5 linked regions of the Homo sapiens genome follow. The protein of the gene in region 1 interacts with the protein of each later gene in a pairwise test. Each region holds a gene or a part of one and is shown on either strand. Other genes may lie near its edges. The genes, in order: STX6, SNAP29, GOLM2, STOM and DNAJC5.

Evidence for each region.
Region 2: the proteins of STX6 (region 1) and SNAP29 interact in binary tests that used the Homo sapiens proteins (3 or more experiments, as listed by UniProt).
Region 3: the proteins of STX6 (region 1) and GOLM2 interact in a two-hybrid assay, tested with the Homo sapiens proteins (one large-scale study listed by BioGRID).
Region 4: the proteins of STX6 (region 1) and STOM interact in binary tests that used the Homo sapiens proteins (3 or more experiments, as listed by UniProt).
Region 5: the proteins of STX6 (region 1) and DNAJC5 come close enough for resonance energy transfer, tested with the Homo sapiens proteins (one study listed by BioGRID).

Annotation. Positions count from the first base shown.
Region 1 is NC_000001.11:180,988,369-180,991,887, forward strand, and holds part of STX6 (syntaxin-6), read right to left. Parts: intron 1,742-3,519; coding exon 1,616-1,741; intron 1-1,615. UniProt on the Homo sapiens protein: SNARE promoting movement of transport vesicles to target membranes. Targets endosomes to the trans-Golgi network, and may therefore function in retrograde trafficking.
Region 2 is NC_000022.11:20,872,495-20,876,013, forward strand, and holds part of SNAP29 (synaptosomal-associated protein 29), read left to right. Parts: intron 1-3,519. UniProt on the Homo sapiens protein: SNAREs, soluble N-ethylmaleimide-sensitive factor-attachment protein receptors, are essential proteins for fusion of cellular membranes.
Region 3 is NC_000015.10:44,375,702-44,379,220, forward strand, and holds part of GOLM2 (protein GOLM2), read left to right. Parts: intron 1-3,519.
Region 4 is NC_000009.12:121,342,738-121,346,256, forward strand, and holds part of STOM (stomatin), read right to left. Parts: intron 1-3,519. UniProt on the Homo sapiens protein: Regulates ion channel activity and transmembrane ion transport. Regulates ASIC2 and ASIC3 channel activity.
Region 5 is NC_000020.11:63,898,115-63,901,633, forward strand, and holds part of DNAJC5 (dnaJ homolog subfamily C member 5), read left to right. Parts: intron 1-3,519. UniProt on the Homo sapiens protein: Acts as a general chaperone in regulated exocytosis. Acts as a co-chaperone for the SNARE protein SNAP-25. Involved in the calcium-mediated control of a late stage of exocytosis. May have an important role in presynaptic function.

The sequences.
Region 1 (3,519 bases):
AAGCAATTAAAATCCATCTTACCTGGTTCCAAGCCCAGCACTCTAGCAGCTGCTAGTTTCTTTGCCAACTTGGGACAATTCACATTCAGAAGCAAAGCCCAGAAATCAAAGGACCAGACCGTTGCCTCTGAGAACACACTGCTCAAAAGGCTGGATTGTTAAGCTACTGATATCTCCTGCTGATCCAACTTGTGAACAGTCAGCGGGGCTTGAAACCACCAAGAGAGATTTACTCTGGTTGGCTGACGTCCAATAATGGAGCAGACAATGGTTGAAAGCACACGTGCAGATGACCATTGAGACATGGGGATGTTTGGGAGGAGGAAGCCCATTGCCAAGATCAAGGTCTCAATCCACAACAGACTGCCACAGCTTAAATACAAGAGAGTCTGGCAAATCTCTGGATGTGGGGAAACTATGCAGTCTTTCCTCTCTCTTCAAGGACAAACGAAAGGATTCCCTGTGGCAATAAGTTACCTCAAGGACAACTACTGACTGACAAATATTTACTTTTAGTTGTGTTGCATTCTTCTCACTTTCTATAGAAAAAAAATTTCCTGGGTTTAATAGCAATTTAAGTAGACAACTGGTTAAGCAGACATACTAATGTAAAGAACAAAAGAACATATAAACTACATGTATACATAAAACACAATATTTAAGAATCAATAGTTTCAATGGGTACATGCTCCTCAAATCCCCAGACACATTATCATTAGCTTGCTTTTATTAATACAGCTACATATCAAAGGCATCAACAGACATAATCAATTTCATTTTCCTTCTACCCCTTAACCTACACAAAAGCAGTCATCTTTACATATAACAAAACCAACCAATAGGCCGGGCGCGGTGGCTCATGCCTGTAATCCTAGTACTTTGGGAGGCTGAGTCAGGTGGATTGCCTGAGCTCAAGAGTTCGAGACCAGCCTGAGAAACAAGGTGAAACCCCGTCTCTACTAAAATACAAAAAAAAAATTAGCTGGGCGTGGTGGCGTGCACCTGTAGTCCCAGCTACTCAGGAGGCTGAGGCAGGAGAACTGCTTGAACTCGGGAGGCGGAGGTTGCCGTGAGCCGAGATGGTGCCACTGCACTCCAGCCTGGGTGACAGAGTGAGACTCCGTCTCACAAAAAAAAAAAAAAAAAAGAAACCAATCAATAATTTTCGAAGAAAAAAATGAGAGATCTTTCTGAAAGTGTCTTTGCTGAGATGGACAAAGGTCTGTTTTTTCTAAGAGAACTAACTGAGCTTGGTTCTTTATTTTTTTAGAGAAAGGGTCTTGCTCTGTCACCCAGGCTAGAATGCAATGGCATGATCGAAGCTCACTGTAGCCTTGAACTCCTGGGCTCAAGGATCCTCCAGCCTCAGCCTCCTCAGTAGCTAGGACTAAAGGTGTGAGCCACCACGCCTGGCTGAGCTTGGTTCTCTTGAAGCAGTCACACTGTGAAGATTTTGAAACCCTTTACATATGCAATTATTAAACACAATCAACACAGGACAAGCTCTGGCTTACCCTCCTTGTCACTAAGCCACAAGACCCCATGGCTGGCAAAGGAACTAAGGGGGTGTCTTGTTTCCCACTGGCCCGTCCTAAGTCTGGGGTCCTTGGGGTACCTGCTGCTGTGCCTGCTGCTCCTCAATGAAATGAGAATTGGCTCTCTGGAGCTCTCGGTCCAGACGCCCATATTTATCTGTTGTTCCAGTGCTCCAGTTCTGGCTGCCACTGTCTCCCAGCAGTGCCTGTGTGAGAAGAACAACCAGAGGAGTCAGGAGAAACAAACAATTACTATCTCTGAACAAGTGATGCATCAAGAGTGATATAAAGAGTTTTCACATTTCTTGTCTATTTTCCCCTGGGCAAGGCTTTTATGTAGTGGTGTAGGTTGGTGCCTGGGTGGTACTATTTAAGGAATTCCAGGAAGGGCCCTCTATGTCTTTAAGCTCTCCCAATAGGCCTCACAATGGGCTTTGTCCCCTTAAAGTGCAAATAAACGTCTGCTAAATCAACAAACACCCATCTATATACTGTGTTATAATTGAAAAGCATTCAATCTCTTGTAAAAGAGCTCTTCCTGGTACCTGTGGAACTTCAGCAACCCATAGGTTCCAGTCAACCTGATTCCGAAGATCTAGAGTACTTTTTTAAAAAAAGTGTGACCCAGGGGAAGTTGTGGGTTTTTTTGGTGGGGGGAAAGGGAGAGTTCCCTGGAATGACAAGAAGGTAAGCCATAGCCCTTCACACACAAAGGCACAAGAACCATCAATGTCTGTTAAGTTTAACCCATGAATAGAATCCAGGGTCCTTCAGGCTTTCCAGATGACAACTGGGGGTTACTTTACAGGCAGGTATGACCACAAGGAATGCCTGACCCTGGCAACCGAGGCAAGGGCTGCCCTAAAGTCAGAGTTCTCCACCAGGGCTCCCAGACACAAGGGTCGGGTTTCCCAAGTATGAATTCAAGGAAGTTTGCAGCCATAAATGGGTATGTCTTCCTCACATGAAGAAGACAGGCAGGAATGTGAGAGTTCCATCTCAGCAGTTGGTTCTGACCAGATCCCCACAAGCCTTCCTGACTGGTCAAAGTAACTGCTCACACCAGCCCCGCAGGCAAGAGCCAGAAGACGCTAGCAACTAAGACTCTTTTTCCTTGTAGAGTTGCCAAATTTTCCTATCGGGTAATTTAAAAAAAATCTCAGGCACTATTAAAAGCCTGCCTGGTTACTTGGTTCTGTCTGAAAACCCTTCCAACAGCCCCATGACCTTCCTCCATACTGACACTGACCTCTTCTCAGACTGCGAGGGGTGAACTCCATCAAATGGCCAGACTTCAGGGGCTAGGATCAGGGAAGCTCAGTTATTAGAAGCTTTTCTTACAAGAGCTTCCAGGGGCCCAGAGCTTCAGTCCAGCTGGATGGTGACTGTCTCTGGTGTAAAGCAGATCCAAGGCTTTTTGTGGGTGGCTCTGCCCTGACCTGGTCTTAGGGCTATCAAGACTGAAAAGATCCTGCTCATTATGATCCACACTCTAAGGACCTCTATGGAAGACATGAGGAAATAGTGACAATTTTTTTAGGGTCAGAAAAATGCTATAATGCATCACTGGCCTAAGGACAGAGAACTGGGACACCACCAGGGCCTTGTGTGCTCCTGAGGTCACAGGGCTATTTTTCCTACGTTTTCCATGGTGTACACTTAGGTAGAGCTAAGTATAGGGCAAATCATCCACGTTTTATTGTGAAATAGCTTAAAGTTCATCAGTCTGATCCCAAATGTTTGTGATAATAGGATAGAGATTGAGAGAGGGCCCAAGGACTGGAAGATGCACCTGTGTGTGGGTGCCAGAGCAGGGGTGCTGGTGAGGCAAGGAGCAGCACAGAGCCTGGCACCTGGCACAACGTGGCAAGGCCCATGCCTGCTGGAGTGCTTAGAGAGCCCTGATCCTGCTATTCCTTGAAAATTTGCAACTTGACATTTCACTCATAGCCTAAAACAAAATTCCAAGCCATAACTAGATAGG
Region 2 (3,519 bases), on another chromosome or scaffold:
GGTTCATGCCGTTCTCCTGCCTCAGCCTCCCGAGTAGCTGGGACTACAGGCGCCTGCCACCATGCCTGGCTAATTTTTTGTATTTTTAGTAGAGACGGGGTTTCACCGTGTTAGCCAGGATGGTCTCGACCTCCTGACTTCGTGATCCATCCGCCTCCGCCTTCCAAAGTGCTGGGATTACAGGCGTGAGCCACCACATCCGGCCTAATTTTTGTATTTTTAGTAGAGATGGGGTTTCACCATGTTGGCCAGTCTGGTCTCAAACTCCTGACCTCAGGTGATCCACCTGCCTCAGCCTCCTAGAGTGCCGAGCCACCACGCCAGGCTTTTTTTTTTTTTTTTTTTTTTTTTTTGAGACAGAGTCTCACTCTGTTGCCCAGGCTGGAGTGCAGTGGCACCATCTCAGCTCACTGAAACCTCTGTCTCCCAGGTTCAAGCAATTCTCTTGCCTCAGCCTCCTGAGTAGCTGGGATTACAGGCATGTGTCACCATGCCTGGTTAATTTTTGTATTTTTAGGAGAGATGGGGTTTCTCCATGTTGGCCAGGATAGTCTCGAACTCTTGATCTCAGATGATCCGCCCGCCTCAGCCTTCCAAAGTGCTAGGATTATGGGCGTGAGCCACCACACCTGGCCTCTCTCTTTGTTTTAATTCTGTAATGTGGAGCTTTTCTTTTTCATTTTATTTATTTATTTTTTAAGAGATGAGGTCTTGCTGTGTTGGCCAGGTTGGTCTTGAACTCCTGGCCTCAAGCAGTCCTCCCACCTCGGCCTCCCAAAGTGCTAGGATTACAGGCATGAGCCACCACACCTAACTGCAGAGCCGTTTTTTTTAATGCATCACTAAGGTACAGTAAAATATGTGCATCTTAAGTGGAGAGCCAGTGACTGTGAACCTGTGTACACTAGTGTGGCCACCACCCAGATCAAGATGTAGGGTGTGGCAGGGAGGAAATTAGATAACTACTTCAAACTCAGAGTGGGGCTGGGGAGAAACCAGTGTAGGTAACAAAGCTGGTGGTGATGGCAGAAAGAACAGGCAGGCGAAGCCATCAAGAGTTATGGAGAGGTTCAGGCATGGTGGCTCATGCCTGTAATCCCAGCAATTTGGGAGACTGAGGCAGGAGGATCACTTGATCCCAGCCTGAGCAACATGACAAAACCCCGTCTCTACAGAAAAACACAAAAATGAAGTTGGGCATGGTGGTTCAGGCCTGTAATCCCAGCACTTTGGGAGGCCGAGGCGGGTGCATCGTTTGAGGTCAGGAGTGTGAGACCAGGCCAGCCAACATGGTGAAACCCAGTGTCTCCTAAAAATACAAAAATCAGCCAGGCATGGTGGTGCCTGCCTGTAGCCCCAGCTACTTGGGAGGCTGAGGAGGAGAATCCCTTAAGCCTGGGAGGCAGAGGTTGTAGTGAGCGGAGATTGCACCACTGCACCTCAGCCTGGGTAACAGTGAGACTCTGTCTCAAAAAAAAAAAAAAAAAAAAAAAAAAAAAGGCCGGGCATGGTGAGTCACGCCTGTAATCCCAGCACTTTGGGAGGCCAAGGCCAACGGAGCACGAGGTCAGGAGATTGAGACCATCCTGGCTAACACGGTGAAACCCCGTCTCTACTAAAAATACAAAATATTATCCGGGTGTGGTGGCGGGCGCCTGTGGTCCCAGCTACTCGGGAGGGTGAGAAATGTGTATGGCGTGAACCCAGGAGGCGGAGCTTACAGTGAGCTGAGATCACGCCACTGCAACAGTGAGCTGAGATCACGCCACTGCACTCCAGCCTGGGCGACAGAGCAAGACTCTGACACACACAGACACACACAGACACACACACACACACACACACGAAAATTAGCCACACACACACACACACACACACACACACACACACACACACACACACGAAAATTAGCCGGACATGGTGGTACGTGCTTGTGGTCCCAGCTACTGAGGTGGCTGAGGTGGACCCGACCTTTTGGCTTAGGTGGGAGGATCACCTGAACCCAGGGAGGTTGAGCCTACAATGAGCTATGATTGTACCAGTCTACTCCAGCCTGGGTGACAGAGTGAGACCCTATCTCAAAAAAAAAAAAAAAAAAAGTACTGCAGGAGGGACCTGCAGAGTTGGCCCTGGGAACCTGCCGGCCTCAGTGAGTGCCCTGGGGAGGCACTAGCTAAGGTTATGAGGGTTGGTTGGTTTTTTTGGCTCAGCCATAATCACCATTCTGGGTTCTCCAGCTCAACCCTAATTTTAAACATCCGCCATTTCCCTCCAGTTCTAGTCGTTGCTTGTTTTTTGTTGTTTTTTTTTCAATATACATATCAGAAAGATGTTTTATATCCTAATCTTTGGCCACATTTAATTGCCATAGGAGAAGGTAGGATGTTCATTTGTTTTGGTCTAAGACATCCTCCATGTACAAACTCAGGAGCAGAGTGAGCCCTTGGAGGAGTGGGAAGCTGGCAAGTTTGTGACTAGCACCCTTTCACACCCTTCCACATCCTACATACCTCTTCACAAAGGCTGCTTCTGGGGCTCTTGGAGGCCCCTGCATCCCTGAACATAGCTATGAAAGCCATGGAAGTCCTGTGGCTCCAGGGGCAGTTTTCTTTTTTTGGAGCATCATGAAAACTCAGGGGCTTCCCAGCAAAGGCTTCCATCAGTGAGGCAGCCATAGTTATTTCAGTGAGGTGGGCTTTGTCTCTTGGGAAGTCCTGTTTGTCCTTGCTGACAGCTTTCCAAGCTGCTTGTTCTCATTTCCACTTAAAGCTGATGCGTTCCCGTCAAGGTCCCCAAAGTCATGTACCCTGCCTGGCCTGCCCCTAGATTAGCCCCAATCAGTTGTAGCATTCTTGCCATCTCTTAGTAAATTCAAGAAAGCAAAACTTTCACCCACACTCTGCAGTTCTGTGGGAGCAGAAGCTGCAGGAATGCAGTCTGTCTGTTGGAAGATATGGGGGAGGCAGACAGTCCACAGGGATGCAGTGGGGACCCAGAGGAGAGGGAGGTTGGCCCTGGGAACAGAGGAAGGCTGCACAAAGGACCTGACTTTTTGCAGAAGGTGAAGGTTTTGAGGGAACCCACCAATTGAAGGAGGGGTTGGTGCAGGCACATGGCAGTAAAAGCACAGGGGAAGCCGGGATGAAGGAAGTTGTTGGCCATTTCAAGGGCCCAGCAGGGCCAGACACAGTGGCTCATGCCTGTTATCCCAACATTTTATAAGGCCAAGGCAGGACAATCACTTGGGGCCAGGAGTTGAAGATCAGCCTGGGCAACATAGCAAGATTCTGTCTCTACAAACATAAAAAATTTTTAAAGCTGGGCATGGTGATACAGGCCTGTAGTCATATTTACATGGACGACCAAAAAAAAAAATGGGGGGGCGGCTGGGTGCAGTGGCTCACGCCTGTAATCCCAGCACTTTTGGGAGGCTAAGGTGGGCGGATCACGAGGTCAGGAGATCGAGACCATCCTAGCTAACACGGTGAAACCCCGTCTCTACTAAAAATACAAAAAATT
Region 3 (3,519 bases), on another chromosome or scaffold:
GCCCCGGAGGTCGGGGCTCCAGTCAGCTGTGATCACACTGGTGCACTCCAGCCTGAGTAACACAGCAAGACTTCTCAAAAAAATTAAAAAAATGAATGCTTATCATAAATGGTTTATAATGATAAATTAAAAACCATGGAAATCTTATAGGGAGGGTTCATTAAATTTGTTATATCCATAAAAGTGTAATATGTAGCCACTAAAAAGGATGATGCTGAGCTATATTTATTGGCATACAAAGATATATATGTTGGGCCGGATGTGGTGGCTCACGCCTGTAATCCCAGCACTTTGGGAGGCCGAGGTGGGCGGATCACCTGAGGTCAGGAGTTCGAGACCAGTCTGACCCACATGGAGAAACCCCATCTCTACTAAAAATACAAAATTAGCTGGGCTTGGCGCATGCCTATAATCCCAGCTACTTGGGACGGCTGAGGCAGGAGAATCGCTTGAACCGGGGAGGCGGAGGTTGTGGTGAGCCGAGATCGCGCCATTGCACTCCAGCCTGGGCAACAAGAGCAAAACTCCGTCTCAAAAAACAAAACAAAACAAAACAAAAAACAAAGATACCTATGTTGTTTCTTGTTTTTAAGACAGTGTTTCCCTCTGTCACCCAGGCTGGAGTGCAGTGGTGGCTCACTGCAGCCCTAGCCTCCTGGGCTCAAGTGATCCTCCCATCTCAGCCTCCTGAGTAGCTGGATTACAGATGTGTGCCACCCCACCCAGCTAATTGTATTTACTTTTAGTAGAGACAGAGTCTTGCTAGGTACCCCTGGGCTCAAATGATCTTCCTGCCTTGGCCTCCTAAAATATTGGGATTACAGACATGAGACACTGTGCTCAATCTGTATCTGTGATTTTTTAAATTAAAAAGAAAACAGGTTACAAGAAAACAAGTATAACATAATCTCATTTTTGTGGAGGAAAAAAATAGATACTTGTATATGTATACACAAGTATCTCCTATACAAAATTGGAGGGTAAGGTTAGCACTCTTAATTGTCTCCAAGTCAGCTAGCATTTTTCTAGATCATCGTTTGTTTCAGTACGACTAACTATAATAATTACCTCTTTTTTTAATTTTTAATTTTTTAGGTATATAGTAGGTGTGGGGCTTATAACTATTACTTCTGGCCTCTGGGAAGCCCTCTAACTATTCTATCCTAGGTATAAATAAATACCTTTCTCCTTAGTTCAACAAAACCAAGGCTGGGGTTTTCTAAAAGGAATTTTTCAAGAAAACAAAAAAAGGAAAGTAAACAAAAGGCAAAATAAAAGCATAGAAATCAAAGTGTTTACAGGATACACACTGCTTTTTCTTATGTCAGTAAAAGTCTATCCACCAACTAGTTAAGTTGTTACAGTTTATGGGGCTCTAAAGTTTTTGGGAGCTGGGCATGATGGCTCACGTCTATAATCCCAGCAGTTTGGGAGGCCAAGGTGGGACAATTGCTTGAGGCCAGGAGTTTGAGACCAGCCCGGACCACATAGTAAGACCTCGTCTCTACAAAAAATAAAATATTAGCCAAGTGTAGTAGTGCAAGCCTGTGGTCCCAGCTACTTGGGAGGCTGAGCTGGGAGGATCACTTGAGCCCAGGAAGTTGAAGTTGCAGTGAGTGATGATTTTGCCATTGCCTTCCAGCTTGGGCAACAGAACAAAACCCTGTCTCAGAAAATAAAAAATAAAAATAATCCTTGTGACTCTGCAACCCAGGCTGGAGTGCAGTGCCGCGGCCTTGGCTCATTGCAACCTCCACCTCCCAGGTTCTAGCAATTCTGGTGCCTCAGGCCCCCAAGTAGCTGGGGTTACAGGCGTGTGCCACCACGCCAGGCTGAATTTTTTGTATTTTTTAGTAGAGATGGGGTTTTGCTGTTTTGGCCAGGCTGGTCTCAAACTTCTGGCCACAAGTGACTCACATGCCTCGGTCTTTCAAAGTGCTGGAATTACAGGCGTGAGCCACCTTTCCTGGCCCCTTGTGGCAATTTTTTACCCAGATCTCTCTAGCCAAAACTATAAAATTGAGAGTTTTGATTCAGCACTATCATTTGGTAATAATGTAGAGAAAAATGGAATGACGTGGAAAATATGTGTAAAATACAAATAAAAAAGATTATAAGATAGTATATATGATATAACCCTAATTTTAAGGTATACAGTATAATGTACAGAAATAAAAAAAAACCCACCAGAGAGATACTCTTCAGATGATAACAGTGGTTATCTTTAAGTTGTAGTACTACAGTTAAAGTTTAATTTCTTTGTGCTTTTCTATTTTTCCAAGTTTTCTATAGGAACATGTTATTAAGAAGTATATATATATATTTTTTAAATTATTTATTTATTTATTTATTTATTTATTTTTTTGAGACGGAGTCTTGCTCTGTCACCCAGGCTGGAGTGCAGTGGTGTGACCTCGGCTCACTGCAAGCTCTGCGTCCCGGGTTCACGCCATTCTCCTGCCTCAGCCTCCCAAGTAGCTGGGACTACAGGTGCCCGCCACCACGCCCGGCTAATTTTTATTTTTTTGTATTTTTAATAGAGACGGGGTTTCACGATGTTAGCCAGGTTGGTTTCGATTTCCTGACCTCGTGAGCCGCCCGCCTCGGCTGCCCAAAGTGCTGGAATTATAGGCGTGAGCCACCGCGCCAGGACTTTTTTTTTTTTTTTTTTTGAGATAGAGTTTTCACTCTTATCGCCCAGGCCGCAGTGCAGTGGCCTGATCTCAGCTCACTGCAACCTCCACCTCCCAGGTTCAAGAGATTCTTCTGTCTCAGCCTCCTAAGTAGCTGGGATTACAGACACGCACCACCATGCCCGGCTAATTTTTTGTATTTTTAGTAGAGATGGGGTTTCACCTTGTTGGCCAAGCTGGGCGACAGAGCAAGACTCTGTCTCAAAATAAGTAAATAAAAGAAAAGAAAAGAAAATTTGAGCAACTAAAAATAACATATTCTTAATACCTTACCTAACTTGTGTCAATTTTTATTTGTGCTATGCATATAAAAAGGTCTCACTGTTGAAGATCACTGTATCTGAAGAGATTCATTTTATTTATTTATTTATTTGAGATGAAGTCTCTGTCACCCAGGTTGCAGTGCAATGGCGCGATCTCAGCTCACTGCAACTTCCGCCTCCCAGATTCAAGTGATTCTCCTATCTCAGCCTCCTAAGTAGCTGGGATTATAGACACGCACCACCACGCCCGGCTAATTTTTTGTATTTTTAGTAGAGATGGGGTTTCACCTTGTTGGCCAAGCTGATCTTGAACTCCTGACCTTGTGATCTGCCCACCTCAACTTCCCAAAGTGCTGGGATTACAGGCGTGAGCCACTGCGCCCAGTCCATTTTATTAATTCATCAAATCTTTGTTGAACTTCTCTTACATGCTAGGCATGTTCTAGATGTTGGGGATATAGTGGTGACGAAGACAGTTTGTACTGTCATGGAGCTTATATTCTGGGCAGATTTATTGGTCAAAAAAATCTGTGATGGGGCCGGGCGCGGCGGCTCACACCTAT
Region 4 (3,519 bases), on another chromosome or scaffold:
TATATTCTTGGCAAGTACATAAATTCAAGATGAAAAATTTTTACATGCCGATTTAAAATGTTTGATGGACTTTATAGTTTTTCTAAATTCTGTAAGGGGTTTCACAGGCAAAAAAGTTTGAAGATCACTCGAGTAGTAGACAGAACAGGAGTTCTGGAGTCAAATGGACTTGAGTTCAAATCCCAAATCTAACATTTACCAGCCGAATGTCCTCAGAGAGGTTACTGAACATCCTGAACCTCAGTTTCCCATTCTTAAAGCAGACTAACATGTACTTCAGAGGACCACTTGTGAGGAAGACAGAGAAAGTATATAAAGTGTTAAATGAATAAAGGGGGCTATTATAGAGGAATGGCAAGTGACAAGACCTGATTTTTGGGTCCAACTATGCTTTAATGCACAAAAGATTCAAGGTAGTTACTTTAATTCATAATCCTAGAAGAAGGAAAGGTATTAAGACACCATAATTATCAAGATTAAAAGTACAATTTCTCCAGGTTATTATCCTCACTTGAATCTTGAATAATTAATGGTCCATAATACTCCATGAATATCAGAATTGGAGGTGATGGTCTTATGCCCAGTGAGATTTCATTCACTCACACAGCAAAATTTGGGGGCCTTCTAGGGTTAATAAGCCCTGTGTAGGAAAAGCTAAGGATAGAGTGGAATCCCTAGCCTTCTTCAGCTCCTGGTCAGGTAGGGAAGGCAGACATGGAAGTAGATCATTTCATTCTAGTGTGATAAATGCTGACAGACATATGTACAAGGCACAGTGCAAGCAAACAGAAGAAAGCAACTTTTCCAGAGGGTGACGTGGTGAGGTTATAGAAGTTGAATATTAAATGATAAAATGTTTGCTGTTTAGAAAAAGATGAGGAAGAATATTTTGGGCAGAACACATGAAACGGTACTGAGGTATAAAAATGGTATATTCCAGAAAACTGTCAATGGCTGAATACTATGGCAGGAAGAGGGGAAAGGTGGGGGATGAATGGGGCCGGGTTCTGAAGGGCAGTGAGGGCCAGGGTGTTTGGTCTTCATTCTGTAGGCAATGGGAAGCTGCAGAATGATTTTAAGCAGGTAAGTAAACTCCATCAGATCTAGTTTGAAAAAGCTCTCTGACAGATGTCTGAGGTTAGAAGAGAAGGCAGTGAAAGCTGCTAGTGGAACTGCTTTAGAGTGGCCGGTGCGATTCATAGGTGGTGGGGACAGAGAATGAAATGGTTTGGGGAGCTATTCTCCCTCCCCGAAGGAGGGCGAATCAGTGGAATTTGGAGACTAGGTAGGAGGAGGAAAGGGGGACACAGGCTGAGACCCAGGTTTCCAGGTTTTGGTTGCATAGATTAGTGCCATTAATGGAGATAGGATACAGAATATAGTACTCACTGAGAGAAAGGATCCAGCTTATAGGATAAAAACCTTAATTTATCAAAGCCACACATCATGTCCTGCCTAGGTCTGTGAGAAGGGACAAGTGCCAGCTTTGCTCAAAGAAAACCACAGAACTGTATTCCAAGGTAGGCACTACAGAGAATACATCAGAAATCCCCTGCTATGAGAGCAGCAGGCTCTCATTTTTTCCATATCATCTCAGATGTCCAATTAGGCACTTTTTTCTTTGGACATGGACCAACTGAAAAGATATCTCATTTCCCACCACCAATCAATACACAATCGCTTGGCTGAGAAGCCAGACCCACCGGGCTGGGCACACATTTTGTTCATAGAAAAGCCACACTGAGCAAGCTGCCAAAGATGTAAACAACACCACCGGCTTTGTCTAAATACAGGCCAAGTACACTCCGTTGATAGGATCTTAGAGAGCAAAGCAAGCTATTTGTGGGTGTGCACGGCTTTTGTCGAATGTGCAGTAATCTCATAGCAATCAACATTTCATATTTATAGAACATCATTTTAAAGTCTGGCATTTTCATGTATGTGAAATTGGTGCTACCTGTCCCTTCTGCAGACCAGGTGGTCTGGGCAGAGGAAAAGGCAGAGAAAGGTGATCTGTATTTCTGCACTCCATCCTCTCAATTAATAGACTTCTACACCCAGAAACATGAGCCCAAAAGCATGTGCCAGGTGTTTTTCTGAGAGTTATGAAAAGGAAATAAAAGCTGATGCAAACACAAAAGATATTACATTTCAGGCCACTAAGAGCTGGTCTAAACACTTTAAAAACCAAACCTAACATACAGAGAAACACGTAGGAGAATCTGTCCTCTTCTGTGACCGGCTTCTTTCACTCAAATTATGTGTGTGAGCACTTACATTCATTCTCTTTGCTATGTAGTATGCCTACATGTGAATAAACCAGACTTCATTCATTCAGCTAGGAATGGACATTTGGGTATTCTACAGTTTGGGTCAATGTGCTGCTGTGAACATTCTAGTACATGCCTTTTGGTAAACATATGAGTGCATTTCTGTTAGATTCATACTTAGGAGTTGGAGCTGCTGGCTCATAGGGTATACAAATGTTCAGTATGAATAGACATTGCCAGACTGTTTTCCACAGTGGTTGTATTAAGTTACACTGCCACCAGCAGAATATGAGAGTTCTAGTTCCTCTCTCACCCACACTTGGTTCTTTTCCGTTCTTTTCAGGCCATTCTGATAGCTGTCTAGTGTGACATCCGCTTATAATGTGAATTTGCATTTCCCCGATGGCTAATTAGCCTAAGGAATTTTTCTATAAAGTCTCTTAATCTTTAGATTATTCCACTCTATCTCACCTTTCCTGTGCAATTTATTTGTTGAAGAAACTGTGACCCCCCTATTTTCCATGAGAATTTCAATACAATAAGCCTATGGTTGTTGCAGGGTTACTGTATTTTACAGAAGGGCTAGGCTCATTGTGATTCTATGTGTGAACTCCAAGACAGTCACTGCCCAGGTTCATGAGACTGCTTCTAGACTAACCCTACAGCCCCGTCCAAGTGGGAGCATGGCAATTCAGAATTCTAAGCGGTTTCTTCTATCTTTTCTTACTGTTATAAAGGGAAGATAGAAATTTTCTTTCCAAACTCTTAAGAATGCTATGGAAGAGGCTCATAGCCCATCCTGGGAAGTCAGTACTAGAGGAGGCAATGAGGAGCAGAGGGGAATTCTAATTTCCACTGCTACTAATCAACTGTGCGACCTTGCGGACGTCACTTAACTTTTCAGAGCTTCAATTTTTCCTTTGAATAGTGGGATGGCAAACAAGTTTCATTTTTTTTTAAGTTTTTATTATTATTAATTTTTTATTTAATTTAATTTTTTTGAGAAGAAGTCTTGCTCTGTCGCCTGGGCTGAAGTGCAGTGGCGCAATCTCAGCTCACTGCAACCTCCACCTCCAGGGTTCAAGCAATTCTCCTTCTCAGCCTCCCCAGTAGCTGGGATTACAGGCGCCTACCACCACACCAGGCTACTCTTTGTATTTTTAGTAAGGACGGGGTTTCACCATGGTGGCCAGGCTGGTCTTGAACTCCTCACCTCAGGTGATCCACCCACCTCAGCCTCCCAAAGTGC
Region 5 (3,519 bases), on another chromosome or scaffold:
GACCAGGTTTCTTCTAAGTATTTGGCATCACCAGGAAGAGCCCTGTACAAGGTGCTGGTGGTTTTATCCTTAGAGCCCAGATGTGAGGTGCTCACGTGTGTGCCTGGGGTTAGCAGTTGGTGTTTGTTGAATGAATGACTAAAATGCAGTGGGGCGGGGAGTCATGATAAGGTAGAATTTTATCTGAGGTGGAGTTTGCTTCTGAAATCAGGCAGTAAGGTGAATGTGATACCCAGTTAGGAGTATGTAATGCTGCAGGTAAACTGTAACAGCAAATGAAAGCAGTATTTCTCCAGGAAGGAAACAGACCCCTGGGTCCTCGGGCTGGGTTGGAAAAAGCCATTTGTAGAGAAATGGAACATGGTGGCTAGCCCTGCACAAGACATAGAGAAGAGACCCTTAACACTCCAGTTATCTCCAAGTGGGCAGTTAGAATGAGTGCTTCTAGGCCGGGCACGGTGGCTCACACCAGTAATCCCAGCACTTTGGGAGGCCGAGGCGGGCAGATCTTGAGATCGAGAGATCGAGACCATCCTGGCCAACATGGTGAAACCCTGTCTCTACTAAAAATACAAAAATAGCTGGGTGTGGTGGCGGGCACCTGTAATTCCAGCTACTAGGGAGGCTGAGGCAGGAGAATTGCTTGAACCCGGGAGGCAGAGGTTGCAGTGAGCTGAGATAGCACCACTGCACTCCAGCCTGGGCGACAGAGCGAGACTCCCTCTCACAACAAACAAACAAACAAACTGCAGTGCTTCTAAGGTGAGACTCATCGTGATGTTCTGATTAGAACGTTCTCGTGCCACAAAGTCCTGAGATGTGTCCAAGAAGCACCGTCTTCTGTCAGACACACCTCCTGCCCCGCCATAGGCCTTCCCACTGTGGCAGCAGAATCTGTGCTAGGCCTTCCTTCGTGAAAGAGGACAAGATCAGGGCTCACGTGACTGGGGCCGCTGTGACTCTGAGCCTCTGCGTTCTGTCAGATGAGGGTAGTGGTGCTTCCCCTGCGTCCTGCTGGGAGAAAAAAGGAGGCAGTAAATGAAAGGTGTCTCATCACCTGCTTCCTAAATAGAAGGGACAAAGAGGCTGAAAAACAGTAATAGTCTTGTTTTATGAAAATGCCACCCCTAATCTAGGAGCTGGGACTGCCATGCCAGGACCCCTCAGATAATGACATCCCTGAAGAGGATTAGCAGCTAGTCTGTTATCAGTCACAGGCAGTTCAACCCAGAAGATTTAAGGATTAGATTACCCAACAACCTTGAGTGTAGATTTTGTCTCTCATCACCCTTTGCATTAACTTTGGGTGCATGTGTGTTAATGAGGAAGTGTGTTCTGCTTTATTCTTGGTACATCACAGACATTTAATAGATACAGGTCATTAGAAATAAAAATTGTTTTAACTTGTATGAGTTTTGCAAGCATTGATATTTCAAATTGAAATTGCAGAAATTAGGACAGCATTTCATTTTCTTTTGTTTTTTTGAGACGGAGTCTCATTCTCTCACCCAGGCTGGAGTGCGGTGGCGTGACCTTGGCTCACTGCAACCTCTGCCTCCTGGGTTCAAGTGATTCTTCTGCCTCAGCCTCCCGAGTAGCTGGGACTACAGGCGGTCGCCACCACGCCAGGCTAATTTTTTGTATTTTTAGTAGAGACAGGGTTTCGCGGTGTTAGCCAGGATGGTCTCGATCTCCTGACCTTGTGATCCGCCCATCTTGGCCTCCCAAAGTGCTGGGATTGCAGGTGTGAGCCACTGCGCCTGGGCTTTTTTTTTTTTTTTTTTTTGGTTGGGGGACGGAGTCTCACTCTGTCACCCAGGCTTGAGTACAACGGTACGGTTTCCGCTCATGGCAACCTCTGCCTCCTAGGTTCAAGTGATTCTCCTGCCTCAGCCTCCTGGGTTGCTGGGATTACAGGCGCCTGCCATGACACCCGGCTAATTTTTGTATTTTTAGTAGAGATGGGGTTTTGCCATGTTGGCCAGGCTGGTCTTGAACTCCTGACCTCAGGTGATCCACCCACTTTGGCCTCCCAAAGTGCTGGGATTATAGGCGTGAGCCACTGAGCCCAGCCCCAAGTTGGTCTTGAGCTCCTGGACTCAAGTGATCGTCCAACCAGCATCTCATTTTCTAAAGAAAGAAGTACTTAGACCAGGTTTGGGACATGTCTCTGAAAATTCTGGGCTGGTGCAGTGGCTCATGCCTGTAATCCCAGCACTTTGAGAGGCCGAGGCAGGCGGATTGCTAGAGTCCAGAAGTGAAGACCAGGCTGGGCAACATAGCAAAACCCCATCTGTACTAAAACTAGAAACAATTAGCCGGGTATGGTGACATGCAGCTGTAGTCCCAGCTACTCGGAGGCTGAGGTGGTAGGATCACCTGAGCCTGGGAGGCTGAGGCTGCAGCAAGCCATGATTGCTCCACTGCACTCCAGCCTGGGCGACAGAGCAAGACACTGTCTCAAAAAAAAAAAAAAAAAAAAAAAGGAAGTTCTGTATTGATCAATAATTTCCTCCTCAGGACAGACCTGCATATGCCACAATTTAACTTTGTTGCAACATCATTCTACATTTTGCATGAATGGTTTCAAAAAACTTATTTCTATGACAGAGAACTTTGTCATTTATTCTTGACATATTAAACCTGAGTGACATTTTTAAATTTTTGTGTTGTGTTGTGAGTGCTTAGTGAAGATTCCTTGAATATGGATGTGAATGAATCTTATTTTTCATGGGTTTATAATTGTATTGTCCCTTTAAATATTCTACATTGAACATGTATCACCAGCAGAAATAATCATTTACGAGGTGAAGTGTCCAGAGCCATGTAGTGTCTGCATTGCTGTGTCCAGGGATTCTTTGTTTGTTTGAGACGGAGTCTCGCTCTGTCATCCAGGCTGGAGTGCAGTGGCACGATCGTGTCTCACTGCCGCTTCCACCTCCCGGGTTCAAGTGATTCTTCTGCCTCAGCCTCTTGAGTAACTGGAATTACAGGCGTGTGCCACCACGCCCAGCTAATTTTTGTATTTTTAGTAGAGATGGGGTTTCACCATGTTGTCCAGGCTGGTCTCAAACTCCTGAACTCAAGTAATCAACCCACCTTGGCCTCCCAAGGTGCTGGGTTTACAGGCATGAGCCACTGTGCTCAATCTGCGTTCTGAGGCATTCTGTGCCTGTTATGAAATCATGATGCTGGCAGGTCGGAAGATGGAATCGACTTCCCAGCCCCATCGGCTGTGCCCTGCCCTCCTTGCTGTCTCTAGAGCGCGGCTGACTTCGGGGAGAGCTCTCCCTGCCCTGTGCCTCTATTTTTTCACCAGGTAGGGTGGAAATGTGTTCTAGTGAAACTGCAGAACGAAAATATCCCGTCTTACTCTTGACCCTTGAAGAAGCAGGAGCTGAATTCAGGTGCCAGAGGCTGCGTCCGCGCGCTCCACATCAGTCTCAGAGTGGAGGCGAGCCCAGGCCAGAGGCCTCTACCCCGGACGAGGCTGCAGGTGCCTGACGGGAGGAGTGACTG